2 linked regions of the Homo sapiens genome follow. The protein of the gene in region 2 interacts with the protein of the main gene of each other region in a biochemical or structural test. Each region holds a gene or a part of one and is shown on either strand. Other genes may lie near its edges.

What was found. Proteins that work in one complex are often made in the same cells at the same time.
Region 1: the proteins of RXFP3 (region 2) and RLN3 form a complex in vitro, tested with the Homo sapiens proteins (2 studies listed by BioGRID, with this or other methods).

What each region holds. Positions count from the first base shown.
Region 1 is NC_000019.10:14,023,165-14,031,147, reverse strand, and holds the start of RLN3 (relaxin-3 preproprotein), read right to left. Parts: upstream 3,001-7,983; 5' UTR 2,944-3,000; coding exon 2,754-2,943; intron 904-2,753; coding exon of another isoform or gene 792-903; intron 439-791; coding exon 200-438; 3' UTR 1-199. UniProt on the Homo sapiens protein: May play a role in neuropeptide signaling processes. Ligand for LGR7, RXFP3 and RXFP4.
Region 2 is NC_000005.10:33,931,953-33,939,884, forward strand, and holds RXFP3 (relaxin-3 receptor 1), read left to right. Parts: upstream 1-4,433; 5' UTR 4,434-4,788; coding exon 4,789-6,198; 3' UTR 6,199-6,966; downstream 6,967-7,932. UniProt on the Homo sapiens protein: Receptor for RNL3/relaxin-3. Binding of the ligand inhibit cAMP accumulation.

The DNA.
Region 1 (7,983 bases), on a different chromosome or scaffold from region 2:
GTCATGATAGGCTGGTCAAAGGGCAGGGTTGGATAGGTGGTGTCGGGAGACTGTGCCTGAGCCCACAGTGCCTCTGTGACTTGTAGATGAATGAATGAATGTGTGAGGCTCGAAAGACAGGTGCCCAGCCAGACACTAGTTGAGTGGATGGCAGGACTGGGGCATTGGTCCTGGTGCCCACGGCTGCCCAGCCCTCAAACTAGCAAAGGCTACTGATTTCACTTTTGCTACACCCCCACTTGCAGCAGCTGCTGGAAAGGCCAGCCAGGACATCTCGGCTGCCCCGAAGAACCCCAGGGGTTCCTTGCCAGCTGGGTCGCCCCCTGTAAAAGGCCTGGGGTGACTTGGTCAGGGCCAGCCACTCGCTGGACCCCATGGCCTCATCCAGCTCGCCTGCCAGACTGTCTTCATCAGCATCTGCATCCGGGAAGGTATCTCCTGCAAAAGATGAACAGAGTTAGTGATCAGGGCTCAGCTGCTGCTGCACCCACAGTCATGGCTCCTGGCCAGTCTAGCTCTGATCTTGTGACAACAGTCATAGACATAGTTCAGAGTTTTTATTCCACCCAGTCCTGGGTTCAAATTCTGGCTCTGCCAGAGTAGGTGGGATTACAGGTGTCTGCCAGCAGGCCTGGCTGATTTTTGTATTGTTATAGAGATGGGGTTCACCATGTTGTTCAGGCTGGTCGCAAACTCCTGACCTCAAGTGATGTGCCCACCTCAGCCACCCAAAGTGCTGGGATTACAGGCGTGAGCCACCGCACCCAGCCCTGTCATTTATTTCTCCTTACTCTTTATTAATTGAGGACCTGGTACATTTGGGAGCTGGGCTGACTGAGCATGAATCCAGCTTCTCTAATCGTGAGCAAGTAAATTTACTTCTTGGAGCCTCAATGTTCTTTTCTGCAAAGTGGAAAAAAATAATTACTCCAACCTTCTCAAGTTTTATAAGGAGTTAATATTCATTAAAAAAAAAAACTTAGAACAATGTCTGGAACATGATGAGCACTCAAAAATGACTATTGAGTCCGGGCACGGTGTCTCACACCTGTAATCCCAGCACTTCCAGGGGCACATGCTGGAGGATCACCAGAACCAGGAGTTCAAGAACAGCCTGGACAACACAGCACTACCCTGTCTCTACAAATAATAAAAAGTTAGACATGTTGGCACAAGCCTGTAGTCCCAGCTACTCAGGAGGCTGAGGCAGGAGAATTGCTTGAGCCCAAGAGGTTGAAGCTGCAGTGAGCTGTGATCACACCACTGCACTCCAGTCTGGGCAACAGAGCAAGACCCTGTCTCAAAAATAATAATAATAATAATAATAATAATAATAATAATTTATTGATCACTTACTTTGTGTCAAACAACGTTTTAAGTGCTTTAGCAGGTTAACTTCTTTATTCTTCTCAGTGATAACCAGTTGAGGTGGGTGCAGTTATCACCCGTATTTTCCAGAGGAGACCACTGAGGCAGGACTCAGTAAAGAATTTGCATGGCTGGGCGCGGTGGCTCATGCCTGTAATCCCAGCACTTTGGGAGGCTGAGGTGGGAGGATCACCTGAGGTCAGGAGTTGGAGACCAGCCTGGCCAACATGGTGAAACTGTCTCTACTAAAAATAAAAAGATTAGCGAGGTATGGTGGCACACATCTGTAATCCCAGCTACTTGGGAGGCTGGAGGCACGAGAATCGCTTGAACCCAGGTGATGGAGGTTACAGTGAGCCAAGATTGCACCACTGCACTCCAGCCTGGGCAACAGAATGAGATTCTGTCTCAAAAAAAAAAAAAATAGTAGCACATGAACACACAACTATTACATTGTAGAGCTACTATCTGAATCCAAGTGGTGTGTCTTCTATGTCCACGCTCATACCTATCCTCCTTCTCACCATCATGAATATCTATTTGCCAGGTCCCTGCCCCTCATGAAGCTAGGTCTTCTGTTCCCTCTGACTCTCCTGATGGATCCCAGATTGTGCCGCTGCCCTGCTGAGACTCTGCCCTAATCTGTTTTGATTTAATCATACCACTTAATCCTGCAAGATTCAGGAACTGTGTCTCCCATTTGAAGATAAAGACACTCAGAGACTCTAATCTCAGCACTTAGGGAGGCCGAGGTGGGAGGATCACTTGAGCCCAGGAGTTCGAGACCAGCCTAGGCAACATAGTGAGACCCCTGTTTCTACAAAAAAAAAATTTAAAACTAGCCAGGCATGGTGTCAGGTGCCTGTGGTCTCAACTACTCTGGAGGCGGAGGCAGGAGAATCACTTGAGCCTGGGAGGTCGAGGCTGCAATGAGCAGTGATTGGGCCACTGCATTCAAGCCTGGGCAATGGAGTGAGACCACATCTCCAAAAAAAAGACACTCAGAGACGGAAGAAAAACCAACTTGCTGGGGAGAGGTCATGCATTAGGTGACAAACCCAGCTATGTGTATACCACACCCTTCACATTACCTGCTGGAAAGGGTTGGAAAACACTTCGGTGTTGTCTTTGCAAATGGCACGCTCCCCGCCCCCACCTGTCCTCAGACTTCCAGCCCCCATGGATGGCTTGCAACACCCCATCCCAGCTCTGCAGCTCTGCTAACTCCTGAGCCCTTGTTTCAAGGCTGGGCAGGTGTCCCTGGCTGAATGTGGCAGGACAGGGACCCTCCTCCTCCAGCAACCTCCTCTTATCTCTGTCCTTAGCTCCTGGGACCCATCCAGCCACCTGTTCCCCTTCTACATCCACTCTCTCCCCAGCCTCACCCATAGCCTCGTGGGCCAGGATGTCTGATCGTCTCCACCGGGAGCCCCCGCAGGTGAAGATGACTGCTCGGATGAATTCTCGGCCGCAAAGCCTGACCCCGTAAGGCGCTGCCCGGGCCTCAGCTCCCGGCCACAGCTCCCCGGTCAGCACCCATACCGCCAGGAGCAGCAGCAGCATGTACCTGGCCATGCTGGACGGAGATGCTTTGAACGTGAGAGTGGGCCAGTGTCTCTGCTGCCTCTTGGCCCCCCATTTATACATCGTGGCTCCCCCACACTCTGCCTGAAGAAAGCTGAGTGCCTCCCTTATCTTCTCCAGCAGAGGGGAGACAGGCACGGCCCCCCCAACCCGACCTTTCTCATGTCCCCAGCGAAGTGATAACCTTTCGCTAGGGACAGGGTGATGTGGCCCAGCTTATTGTCAACATCATTGACAGAGAGGCGAGAAGGTCTCCAACCTGCAGAGACCAGAAACGCATAATCCCAAAAGGCGGGGTAAGGTGACACAACCAGATCCCCACAACGTTAGGGTCCTGGACCTCTTCGAAGATCATAATAGCAGTGAACGCCCAGTGCAGTATGTGCTACGAGGCCAGGCACACTACTGTAAGCATTTTATTGTTTATTTGTTTGTTTGTTTGTTTAGATGGAGTCTCGCTCTGTCACCCAGGCTAGAGGTACAGTCCCAATGGCACAATCTTGGCTCACTGCAACCTCCGCCTCCCAGATTCAAGAAATTCTCCCGCCTCAGCCTCCCAAGTAGTTGGGATTACAGGCGCCCACCACCACACCTGGCTAATTTTTGTATTTTCAGTAGAGACGGGGTTTTACCACGTTGGCCAGGCTGGTCTCGAACTCCTGGCCTCAGGTGATCCGCCTGTCTCAGCCTCCCAAAGTGCTGGGATTACAGATATGAGCCACAGCCCTCAGCTGCTCAAAGCATTTTATATCTCTGTAATGTATTTGATTCTCCCAACAACCCAGGGTAATGGTTCTCAAATGTGAGTGAGCTTCAGAATCTTTGGGTAGGCTTGTTAAAACAGAAATCAGGCCAGGCGCGGTGGCTCACGCCTGTAATCCCAGCACTTTGGGAGGCCATGGCAGGAGGATTACCTGAGGTCCGGAGTTCGAGACCAGCCTGGCCAACATGGTGAAACCCCGCCTCTACTAAAAATACAAAAAATTAGCCGGGTGTGGTGGCTCATGTCTGTAGCCCCAGCTCCTTGGGAGGCTGAGGCAGGAGAATTGCTTGAACCTGGGAGGTGGAGGTTGCAGTGAGCTGAGATGGCGCCACTGCACTTCAGCCTGGGCAACAGAGTGAGACTCTGTCTCAAAAACAAACAAACAAAACACATATCTTTGTGTCCTACCTGCAGAGCTCCTGACTCAACAGGTATGGAACATATCTAAGAATCTGCATTTCCAACCAGTTCCCAGGTGACATTGATCCTGCTGGTTCAGAAACCAGACTTTTTTTTTTTTCTTTTTTTCAGAGACAGGGTCTGGCTATGTTGCCCAGGCTGGATTGTAGTGGTGGCAACATAGCTCACTGCAGCCTTGAATTCCCGGGTTCAAATGATCCTCCCACCTCAGCCTCCTAAGTAGCTGGGACTACAGGTGTGTACCACCATGCTCAGCTAATTTTTGTATTTTTTGTAGAGATGAGACCTCACAATGTTGCCCGGGCTGGTCTCAAACTCTTGGACTCAAGGGACCCAAATGCGTCAGACTCTCGAAGTGCTGGGATTGGCTGGACACAGTGGTTCACACCTGTAATCCCAGCACTTTGGGAGGTCGAGGCGGGTGGATCACCTGAGGTCAGGAGTTTGAGACCAGCCTGGCCAACATGATGAAACCCTGTCTCTATTAAAAATATAAAAATTAGCCGGGCATGGTGGCGGGTGCCTGTAATCCCAGCTACTGAGAAGGCTGAGGCAGGAGAATCGCTTGAACCCAGGAGGCAGAGGTTGCAGTGAGCCAAGATTGTGTCATTGCACTCCAGCCTGGAGCACCACGCCCAGCCCAGAAACCACAGTTTCTTTCTTTCTTTTTTTTTTTTTTTTGAGATGGAGTCTCGCACTGTCGCCCAGGCTGGAGTGCAGTGGCATGATCTCGGCTCACTGCAAGCTCCCCACTTCCCAGGTTCACGCCATTCTCCTGCCTCAGCCTCCCGAGTAGCTGGGACTACAGGCGCCCGCCACCACGCCCGGCTAATTTTTTGTATTTTTAGTAGAGACGGGGTTTCACTGTGTTAGCCAGGATGGTCTCGATCTCCTGACCTCGTGATCCGCCCGCCTCGACCTCCCAAAGTGCTGGGATTACAGGCGTGAGACACTGCGCCCGGCGGAAACCACACTTTTAAGAGCATGGGGTTATGAATTCAGGACTAAGATAATTCTCATATTACAAATGAGGAAACGGAGACACAGAAGGGTGTCCTGAGGCAGCAGATCCTAACGTTTTTGACGCCAGAAACCGGTTTCGTGGAAGACAATTTTTCCATGGATGGAGTGTCAAGTGGATGGTTTCGGGATGATTCAAGCGTATCACTTTTTTTTTTTTTTTTTTTTTTTTTGAGATGGAGTCTTGCTGTGTCACCAGGCTGGAGTGCAATGGCGCAATCTTGGCTCACTGCAACTTCTGCCTCCCAGGTTCAAGCGATTCTCCTGCCTCAGCTTCCGAGTAGCTGGGACTACAGGCATATGCCACCACGCCCAGCTAATTTTTGTATTTTTAGTAGAGACGAGGTTTCACCATGTTGTCCAGGTTGGTCCCGATCTCTTGACCTCATGATCCGTCCACCTCGGCCTCCCAAAGTGCTGGGACTACAGGCATGAGCCACCGCGCCTGGCCAAGCGCATCACATTTATTGTGCACTTTATTTCTATTATTATTATACTGTAGTTGTATATTGAAATAATCATACAACTCACCATAATGTAAAATTAGTGGCAGTGGCCAGGCACAGTGGCTCATGCCTGTAATCCTAGAACTTTGGGCAGCTGAGGCGGGCGAGTCACTTGAGGTCAGGAGTTCGAGACCAGCCTGGCCGACATGGTCAAACCCCATCTCTACTAATAGTACAAAAATTAGCTGGGCATGGTGGCACATGCCTGTAATCCCAGTTACTCAGGAGTCTGAGGCAGGAGACTCACTTGAACCCAGGAGGCAGAGTCTGCAGTGAGCCGAGATTGAGCCACTGTGCATCAGCGTGGGCGACAGAGTGAGACTTTGTCACAAAAAATAATCATCATCATCATAATAAAATAAAAATATATATATTGAGAGGCTGGGAATGATGGCTCACGCCTGTAATTCCGGAACTTTGGGCAGCCAAGGCAGGAGGATTGCTTGAACCCAAGAGTTCCAGACCAGCCTGGGCAACAGGTGAAACCCCACCTCTACAAATAATGTAAAAATTAGCCAGGTGTGGTGGCACACATCTGTGATCCCAGCTACTCAGGAGGCTGAGGTGGGAAGATCACTTTTGCCTAAGCGTTCAAGGCTGCCATGAGCTGAGATTGCATCACTGCACTCCAGCCTGTACAACGGAGCCAAACCTTGTCTAAAAAAAAAAAAAATTGAGGCCGGGCATGGTGGCTCATGCCTGTAATCCCAGCACTTTGGGAGGCTGAGGAGGACGGATCACTTGAGGTCAAGAGTTTGAGACCAGCCTGGCCAACACGGTGAAACCCGTCTCTACTAAAAATACAAAAATTTGCTGGGCATGGTGGCAGATGCCTGTAATCCCAGCTACTCAGGAGGCTGAGGCAGGAGAATCTCTTGAACCTGGGAGTCGGAGGATGCAGTGAGCGGAGATCACGCCATTGCACTCCAGCCTGGGCAACAAGAGCGAAACTCTGTCTCAAAAAAAAAAAAAAAAAGAGAGAGATAACATCCATATAAAATAAAACTAACCAGGCCAGGTACGGTGGCTCACGTCTGTAATCCCAGCACTTTGGGAGGCCAAGGCGGGCAGATCACTTGAGTTCAGGAGTTTGAGACCAGCCTGTCCACCGTAGTGTAAAACCCAGTCTCTAACAAAAATACAAAAATTAGCCAGGTGGGAAACAGGTGGTTTACAAATGTAAACCACTGCGGCCAGTCTTTCTTTTTTAAAGAGATGAGGCCTAACTATGTTGCCCAGGCTGATCTGGAACTCCTGAGCTCAAGTGATCCTCCCCCTTTGGCCTCCCAAAGTGCTAGGACTACAGGCATGAGCCACCAGGCACAGCTATGTTAATGTCAATTTCACCTCGACTTTAAAACACAGCAAAAACAAGGGCTCTGGTAAGGGGGGCAAGCTTGGCTTCAAATTCCACCTCTGCCTCTTTCCTGCTGTGTGACCTTGGCCAAGTCACTTAAACTCTCTGTGCCTTGGTTTCCTCACTTGCAAAATGGGAAAGATTTAATGAGTGAGTCAAATTTTTACAACAATCTCCTGCATGAAGTAAGTGCTGTTTAAATGTTATTTCTACTGGACACGTTCCCTTTGGATTAGAACTTCATCTCTTTGTCCTTTTCTCTGTCACAAACTCCTGGCCCCAGTTGCCTGCTGTGGATGTCACAGGCCAAGGGCAACCTTCCGGAGGCAGAGGTCACCTCTGATTGCTCTGTTTCTAAAGGGCTGGTGAATAATACTCTCTTCCCCTCGGCCTCTTCTCCAGGAACTTCCTGTAGGGAGGTACCCTCCTGCCCTTTTCTCCTGCGCCCCCAGTGCCTGGCCTGGGGAAGAACAAGCATTCAGGAAATATCTGCTGCCTGCCTGCCTGACTTAACTGATGGGCCTCAAACCAGAAGCCTCTTTTTTCTTTTTCTTTTCTTTTTTTTTTTTTTTTGACACAGGGTCTCACTCTGTCGCTCAGACTGGAGTGCAATGGAGTGATCTCGGCTCATCGCAGCCTCTGTCTCCAGGGTTCAAGCTATTCATGTGCCTCAGCCTCCCAAGTAGCTAGGACTGCAGGTGTGCGCCACCATGTCTGGTTAATTTTTGTATTTTTAGTAGAGACGGGGTTTTGCCATGTTGGCCAGGCTAGCCTCAAACTCTTGATCTCAAGTGATCTGCCCACCTCAGCCTCCCAAAGTGCTGGCGTGAGTCACTGCACCCAGCCCAGAAGCGTCTTTTGTGTCTCACATAGAATCAGAGTTTTGGGCCCAACATAGCTAGGTTCAAATCTCTGTTCCTGTGTATCCTTGGGCAAGACCCTATACCTCTCTGAGTTCATTGTGA
Region 2 (7,932 bases):
CATATGTCCAGCCTGAATGTGTCATCTTCCCCCACCTCACTTGCTCAGCATGCCTACCTACCCACATGCTCAGGGTAAAAACTTGAAAGCTTTTAATTTGTCCTTACCTTCACCCTTTCTTTGTATGCAGTCCACCCCCAAGTACTGTCAAGTCAGTGTCTTAAATGCCTATTTAAATCTTATTCTGCCCCGCATCCCTCTAGATTAAAGTACAATCATCTCTCTCCTGAACTATTGATGTAGCTTCCTAATTGTCTTGATTTATATCAGCTCCGCCCCTTCCAGTCTACTCATCACACTATATCTAGAGTGATGGTTTGAATATGCGAAACTGATTGTGTTGCTCCCCTGCTTCAAATTTTCCAATGTCCTCCATTACTCCAAAGTCATAGATCAAAATTCTGCAGTCGGAAATTGTTTGACACCTGCCCATGTCACCAGACTATCTAGCACTATTTACTTCATCTCCCTGTGTTATAGGCACTTCATCTTCTTTCTGTCCTACAAAAGCATCATGCTCTTTCCTGCCCAGTGCCTTCACTCAGGCTGTTCCTTCTGCCCAGAGTCCTCTTTCTTCCCCTTTCCTTACCCCCACCTCACCCCCATTTACCTGATTATAGAATTTCCTTTCTTCCAAGATACTATAGCTTATAAGACACACCTTTTGTTTACAGCTTTCTAGAGAAAAAAATTATTCACTAAATAGGTATATAGCAATTGGAAATCCATATTGATCTTAAAAATCTTTAATTTGATAAGATGTGAATCTTAGAATTAGATAAATATGCTTGTAAATAGTTAAAAGTTAGTTACTTGCACATGGTTTTGTAACTTTCTATTTTACTCTGTTTTTTTCTTATTGTAATTATAATAATACAATTTATTAGAATTTTTTTTTTTTTTTTGAAATGGCGTCTTGCTCTGTTGCCCAGGCTGGAGTCCAGCCATGTGATCTCAGCTCATTGCAACCCCCACCTCCTGGGCTCAAGCAAGTCTCCTGGCTCAGCCTCCAGAGTAGCTGGGACTACAGGCATGTGCCACTACACACAGCTAATTTTTGTATTTTTAGTAGAGACGGGGTTTCACCATGTTGGCTAGGCTGGTCTTGAACTCCTGACCTTAAGTGATCTGCCTGCCTCAGCACCCCAAAGTGCTGGAATTACAGACATGAGACAGTGTGCCCAACCCAGAATTCAAATTTTTAAAAGGTCTCTCTCATCTATTAGAATGTGAGTTCTGGTACCACTAAATCTCTAGTACATGACACAGTGTCTAGCACAAAGTCGGTGTTAAGATTAACCAACATGTTCAAATCAGAATTGCTCCATTTCCCATTAGGTTATGTTCAAGCCAGGCTGTGTACCCACCCTATGCTAGTTTCTATTGCTATTATAACACATGGGCAGAAATGTTGTGGCTTAAAAGAAGGTACATTTATTCTCTCACAGTTCTGGAGATCAGAGATTCAAAATCAGTTTCACTAGAGTAAAGCCAAGATGTCAGAAGAGCTGTTTCCTTCTTGAGGCTTTAGGAGAGAATCCATCTTTTTGCTTAGTTAAGCTTCTAGTGGCTGCAAAGTTCCTTTGGCTGTATAAAGTAACATCCAAGGGCTTGGGAAATGGGATGTGGACATATTTGTGTGTGGGGGGAGGCATTATTCAGCCTACCACCCACCCCTGTGTTGAAAAACAATATGGAAGACTTAGATCCAAATTGGAAAATGGAGCATAGATCAAGAGACATCACTTAAGAGTCAAGACTATGTTTTAGACCGGGTGTGGCTCCTTCCTAGTGGTGAGATTCTTGGTAAATACCTTCATTTCTTCAAGCCTCCTCCGCAAAATGCTGGACCAAAGCAGGTGATTTCTTCCCTTCTATGATCATGGGCTCCCAATGGTTACATGCTAGAGTATGATTTTATGCTGTCCTCATGGCTTCGCATGGCCCACATGGCTTCAGGAACACAAAAGAAGCCCAGAAAAAGGTTTCAAGATCCCATACCCTGCCACTGTGAATGAGAGACAGTTTCTTGATGCTGATTTTCCTCCAGGCCCCCATCACAGCCTGGTTTCAATTTTGGTAAGAAGAGGAACAGAAAAACAGACCACATATGTAACATAACAAGCTCTGCACCCTTCCTCCTTTATGGTTTCTTTAAATACCAACATAGAGTACCCCCTCCCAAAAAACCTAAAACTGGAATATCCCATCAAGGTATAACTATTTATTACCTACCCACCCCTTAAAAAAAAAGGGAAATAATAAAAGAGGTAAAATTATTGTCCACTTATCTGGCATGAATCATTACATTCTAGATAACTTAGTCATGCACAAAACTAAACAAAAAATATAGTTTTAGACACTAGTAGATTGCACACTCATCTAGATTAAGAATTCCAGAGACGCTCAAAATAGAGGACTTATGTCTTTCAGCCTATCTCAGTGCCTGGCAAGAGTAAGTGGCCAATGAATGTGAGATGAATTGAATCAGGCCCCTATAATTTTTTCATAAAGTATGAATATGTACATGTGATTTGGAGCAGACCAAGTAGATATATTCCTGGGTGTGCCTAGAAGCACTGAGAAGCTGTGTATGTGTTAGATGGAGGTCATTGGTGTGAACATACCAAAAATTTAACAGCAGAGAGCTTTCAGGGTATGCCCCAGCTTTTCTTGTGTTTCAACAGCCCCTTGAAATATTAGAAAAGAGAAATAGAGACATAGATGAAGAGAGAGAGAAAATTGATGGAGAAATAACCAGTTAAAAATAAAGTCAAAACTGAGTGTGAAAGTGAGGCTACTAAAACCAGGATAATAGTCATCCATAGAAATAACCTGTGCTTTGGGAGGAATCCTCAGGGCAGGGGTGATCTCCAGGTAAGAACTGATCAAAGGAGATGTTTGTGTTTGGCTAGGTTTTTACTAAAGCCCTTACTCCCTCTAGTGGGAAGACGGAGCTGTGCAGCATCCGTAGCAAGGTGTGTGCTCTTCAGGGCTAAAAGTCCTTTGGAATCAAGATTGTTTCTTGTTTCTTTTTTTTTCTTTTTTCCTTTTTCTCTTTCTTTTCTTTTCTTTCTTTCTTTCTTTCTTTCTTTCTTTCTTTCTTTCTTTCTTTTTCGTTTTTCTCTTTCTTTCTTTTTCTGTTTCTTATCTCCTCAGCTTGAAGGTTGCATCCTCTTTATCTCCTTAAGTAAAGCTGGGAGTTCTGTAGTACTCCAGGAGTGAGGACAATTATGCTTAAGAAACTTTGGTTTCAGTTTAGTCCCAGACCAAGAGGAAAACATTTCAAAATTTTAAAGTAAATCCTAAAAGTGTAATTTACACCAGAGCGATTGACCTGGCATTTATGTAGACTGAAGCTTGAGAAGTAATTCAAGTGGTTTCCACTCATTCCCTTGGAAGAGTCCTTAGAATGTACTTCCATTGGTCTGAAAAACGCCTGAAAAAGAGTCCTGATGCTAACAGTAATGGAAATAGGAGGGCTGGTGGTTCACGATCAGCCCAGTGGTATCCTCTATTCTATTTGCATCTAGGTAAAGAGACTGTGGCCTGTATGTGATCAAACAATTTGTTGAAGCGCTTTGGGCTTAGGGCATTTAATTTCTGTGAAGTAGGACCATCAGTTGTTTGCTCTGTTTTTGTGTCACCTCTCAGAATACATTAAAGTAGGGGCAACCCTTGAGCCCAGACTTCTGCCATGTGAAGACCCTTTGAAAATCCTGACAAACACAGGTACTGCGTAAGTGGTCAGCTAATTAAAGAGGGGAGGTGGAGCTGTCCTTTGTGTATCCAATAAGTACCCATTATCTCATTTGAGCATGAAAAGAGGCCACTGTTATTACTTTCAAGAAGGAAAGTAAGCAGGATAGCTCATATTTTTAGAACAATTCCTCACCAAATGGAATAATTCCGGTGAAAAGTGGGAGTGAGGAAGAAAGAAAAAAAAAACTTCTAATCATAATGTTTGGGAATAAGAAAGGAAGAAGAAACTCACGTCAAAGCCGACTTTCTCCTGCAGCTGTAAAATAAACTCTTAAGACCCTTCCTGCTGAAACTCTGGAGAGGAAAACTGGAGTGGCGGGTGGGCTTTGCCTGCAGCTCAACTCTCCCTCGCGGCGCGGGCGCGGCTGGGTTCAGCACCTCGGAAAGCGCCCCTCGCGGCGCCCCGGGATTACGCATGCTCCTTGGGGCCCGCCGCCTTGGCCGTGCAAGTGCCACCGTAACTGGTGAGAGCCGCTGGCAACCCACCCGGAGTTGACAACCGCGGAGAGACGCAGACACCCACTGACCTCCAGGAAGCTGAGCGTGGTGGATGGAACTCTACGATCTCTTTCTCTCCAAGGACGGAAACCTCATCCAAGCAGTCCCAGAGGAAACGGATAAAGGTATTTGAAAGGGAGCGAGCGGCCCCAAATCGCACAATTGAGCGGCTGGGGGAGTTATGCGCCAGTGCCCCAGTGACCGCGGGACACGGAGAGGGGAAGTCTGCGTTGTACATAAGGACCTAGGGACTCCGAGCTTGGCCTGAGAACCCTTGGACGCCGAGTGCTTGCCTTACGGGCTGCACTCCTCAACTCTGCTCCAAAGCAGCCGCTGAGCTCAACTCCTGCGTCCAGGGCGTTCGCTGCGCGCCAGGACGCGCTTAGTACCCAGTTCCTGGGCTCTCTCTTCAGTAGCTGCTTTGAAAGCTCCCACGCACGTCCCGCAGGCTAGCCTGGCAACAAAACTGGGGTAAACCGTGTTATCTTAGGTCTTGTCCCCCAGAACATGACCTAGAGGTACCTGCGCATGCAGATGGCCGATGCAGCCACGATAGCCACCATGAATAAGGCAGCAGGCGGGGACAAGCTAGCAGAACTCTTCAGTCTGGTCCCGGACCTTCTGGAGGCGGCCAACACGAGTGGTAACGCGTCGCTGCAGCTTCCGGACTTGTGGTGGGAGCTGGGGCTGGAGTTGCCGGACGGCGCGCCGCCAGGACATCCCCCGGGCAGCGGCGGGGCAGAGAGCGCGGACACAGAGGCCCGGGTGCGGATTCTCATCAGCGTGGTGTACTGGGTGGTGTGCGCCCTGGGGTTGGCGGGCAACCTGCTGGTTCTCTACCTGATGAAGAGCATGCAGGGCTGGCGCAAGTCCTCTATCAACCTCTTCGTCACCAACCTGGCGCTGACGGACTTTCAGTTTGTGCTCACCCTGCCCTTCTGGGCGGTGGAGAACGCTCTTGACTTCAAATGGCCCTTCGGCAAGGCCATGTGTAAGATCGTGTCCATGGTGACGTCCATGAACATGTACGCCAGCGTGTTCTTCCTCACTGCCATGAGTGTGACGCGCTACCATTCGGTGGCCTCGGCTCTGAAGAGCCACCGGACCCGAGGACACGGCCGGGGCGACTGCTGCGGCCGGAGCCTGGGGGACAGCTGCTGCTTCTCGGCCAAGGCGCTGTGTGTGTGGATCTGGGCTTTGGCCGCGCTGGCCTCGCTGCCCAGTGCCATTTTCTCCACCACGGTCAAGGTGATGGGCGAGGAGCTGTGCCTGGTGCGTTTCCCGGACAAGTTGCTGGGCCGCGACAGGCAGTTCTGGCTGGGCCTCTACCACTCGCAGAAGGTGCTGCTGGGCTTCGTGCTGCCGCTGGGCATCATTATCTTGTGCTACCTGCTGCTGGTGCGCTTCATCGCCGACCGCCGCGCGGCGGGGACCAAAGGAGGGGCCGCGGTAGCCGGAGGACGCCCGACCGGAGCCAGCGCCCGGAGACTGTCGAAGGTCACCAAATCAGTGACCATCGTTGTCCTGTCCTTCTTCCTGTGTTGGCTGCCCAACCAGGCGCTCACCACCTGGAGCATCCTCATCAAGTTCAACGCGGTGCCCTTCAGCCAGGAGTATTTCCTGTGCCAGGTATACGCGTTCCCTGTGAGCGTGTGCCTAGCGCACTCCAACAGCTGCCTCAACCCCGTCCTCTACTGCCTCGTGCGCCGCGAGTTCCGCAAGGCGCTCAAGAGCCTGCTGTGGCGCATCGCGTCTCCTTCGATCACCAGCATGCGCCCCTTCACCGCCACTACCAAGCCGGAGCACGAGGATCAGGGGCTGCAGGCCCCGGCGCCGCCCCACGCGGCCGCGGAGCCGGACCTGCTCTACTACCCACCTGGCGTCGTGGTCTACAGCGGGGGGCGCTACGACCTGCTGCCCAGCAGCTCTGCCTACTGACGCAGGCCTCAGGCCCAGGGCGCGCCGTCGGGGCAAGGTGGCCTTCCCCGGGCGGTAAAGAGGTGAAAGGATGAAGGAGGGCTGGGGGGGGCCCCATTTAAGAAGTAGGTGGGAGGAGGATGGGCAGAGCATGGAGGAGGAGCCTGTGGATAGGCCGAGGACCTTCTCTGGAGAGGAGATGCTTCGAAATCGGGTGGAGAGAGGAAATTGGCAAAGGGATAGAGACGAGCCCCACGGGCCAGACAGCCAACCTCCGCTCCGCACCCCACAGCCTCTCCTTACTCTTCCCACGCTGAGTAGTGTGGGGGCGCCCAGAAGCGAAGACAAGCAGCAAAAATGTAGAGAAATTGGCACGGGGAGCGGGGCTTAGCCAAATGATGCACAGACAATTGTGCCCGTTTATTCCAGCGACTTCTGCGGAGAGGGCAGCCGTCGGCACAAACACTCCTTTGCGTCTTGGCAAACGAGACTGCAGCAGCGCCAAGGTCCTACTTGCTGCGGGGCTGCCCCAGGAATCTAGAGCTGGTAGGCAAGAAACGCTTTTGGAGTTAAGAAAAAGAACTGACCATCCTGGTCCGCCCACAGGAGAAACGGCAAAGGAAAGCCACCTCCAATGGAGTCATTATGACAATTATCATTCCGGACTGGGCCAGCGGGAACACCCTGAGCCCGACCTAGCTGCACAGCCCCGGAGCTCAGACGTTAGCAGGGGGATAACACCTGTCACCAGCTTGGGAGAGCCATTCTCTGGGGAGTGTCGTCGCTGCGGGAGGGAGGAGACACAGTGTGATTAGAAGGGCTGGACAGGGAAATTTCTTCAGGCTGCTGCCCCAAAAGGTAAAAGGGGGCTCATATGCTCACTTGGTAGCAGAGTTGGAAGTGGAGCGCTGGCGCGTTGCGCGCAGGAAGCTCGGGCGCTCCAGTTCCTCTGAGAGCAGTCTGCGTGCTGCCGGTGAGCTGGGCCCGGAGGCATCTTGAATAGCTCTACTGGGAGGAGTGGGGGCACTTCTTCAGTTCCTCCCTTCCCACGCTTTGGGAATCAAGCTGTTCCTTTGATTGAGGCCCTGGACCAGCGAGTAGAGGGATGGTTCAGTATTTATTTTATTATTAATTTTTTTCTGGTAGGCTTAGATAGAAGAGGAAGAAATACCGCAGAAATGTGCAAGGGGAATTGGGGCGGGGGGCGGGGGGAAGTGGAATCTTGGAAACCAAATTCCTAGAAGCTGGGTCGGATCTCTCAAACAGAGGTGTGGGGTAGGAAAGAAAATAGAAGGTTCAGGTACCATGTTCTAAAGCGAGCAGAGTACTGGGGAAACTGTTCTGAGGGTATCATCAGAATTTCAGTTGTGGGCTTTTTTATTGCTTATATTATTGACAAGAGAAGGTAGGAAATAGTAATTCCCATCGGACATTACCATCACCAATTTCCATTTATTCTAAAGAGTGCTTTACATATTAAGCATGCATGACAAATTCTTTCCCAGCCTCCAGACAGTTTATGGAGCTGTCTCTGAAGACCGCCTCACATTTCTCATGTTGACTCTGTTTTGATCACAGGAGCTTAAGATGTTAAACCCTCACAAAGTCCTTTCTTGAGGCTCTTCTAAGAACTGGGATCAAACATCAGTCTACCTACCCCTCTGCTGGCTTTCATAGAGGTACTGCTACTCTCTTCGGCAACCTGGTTTGGGGCCAAAAAACCAATGATGCAGGCACCCACCAGGGTGGTTGGTT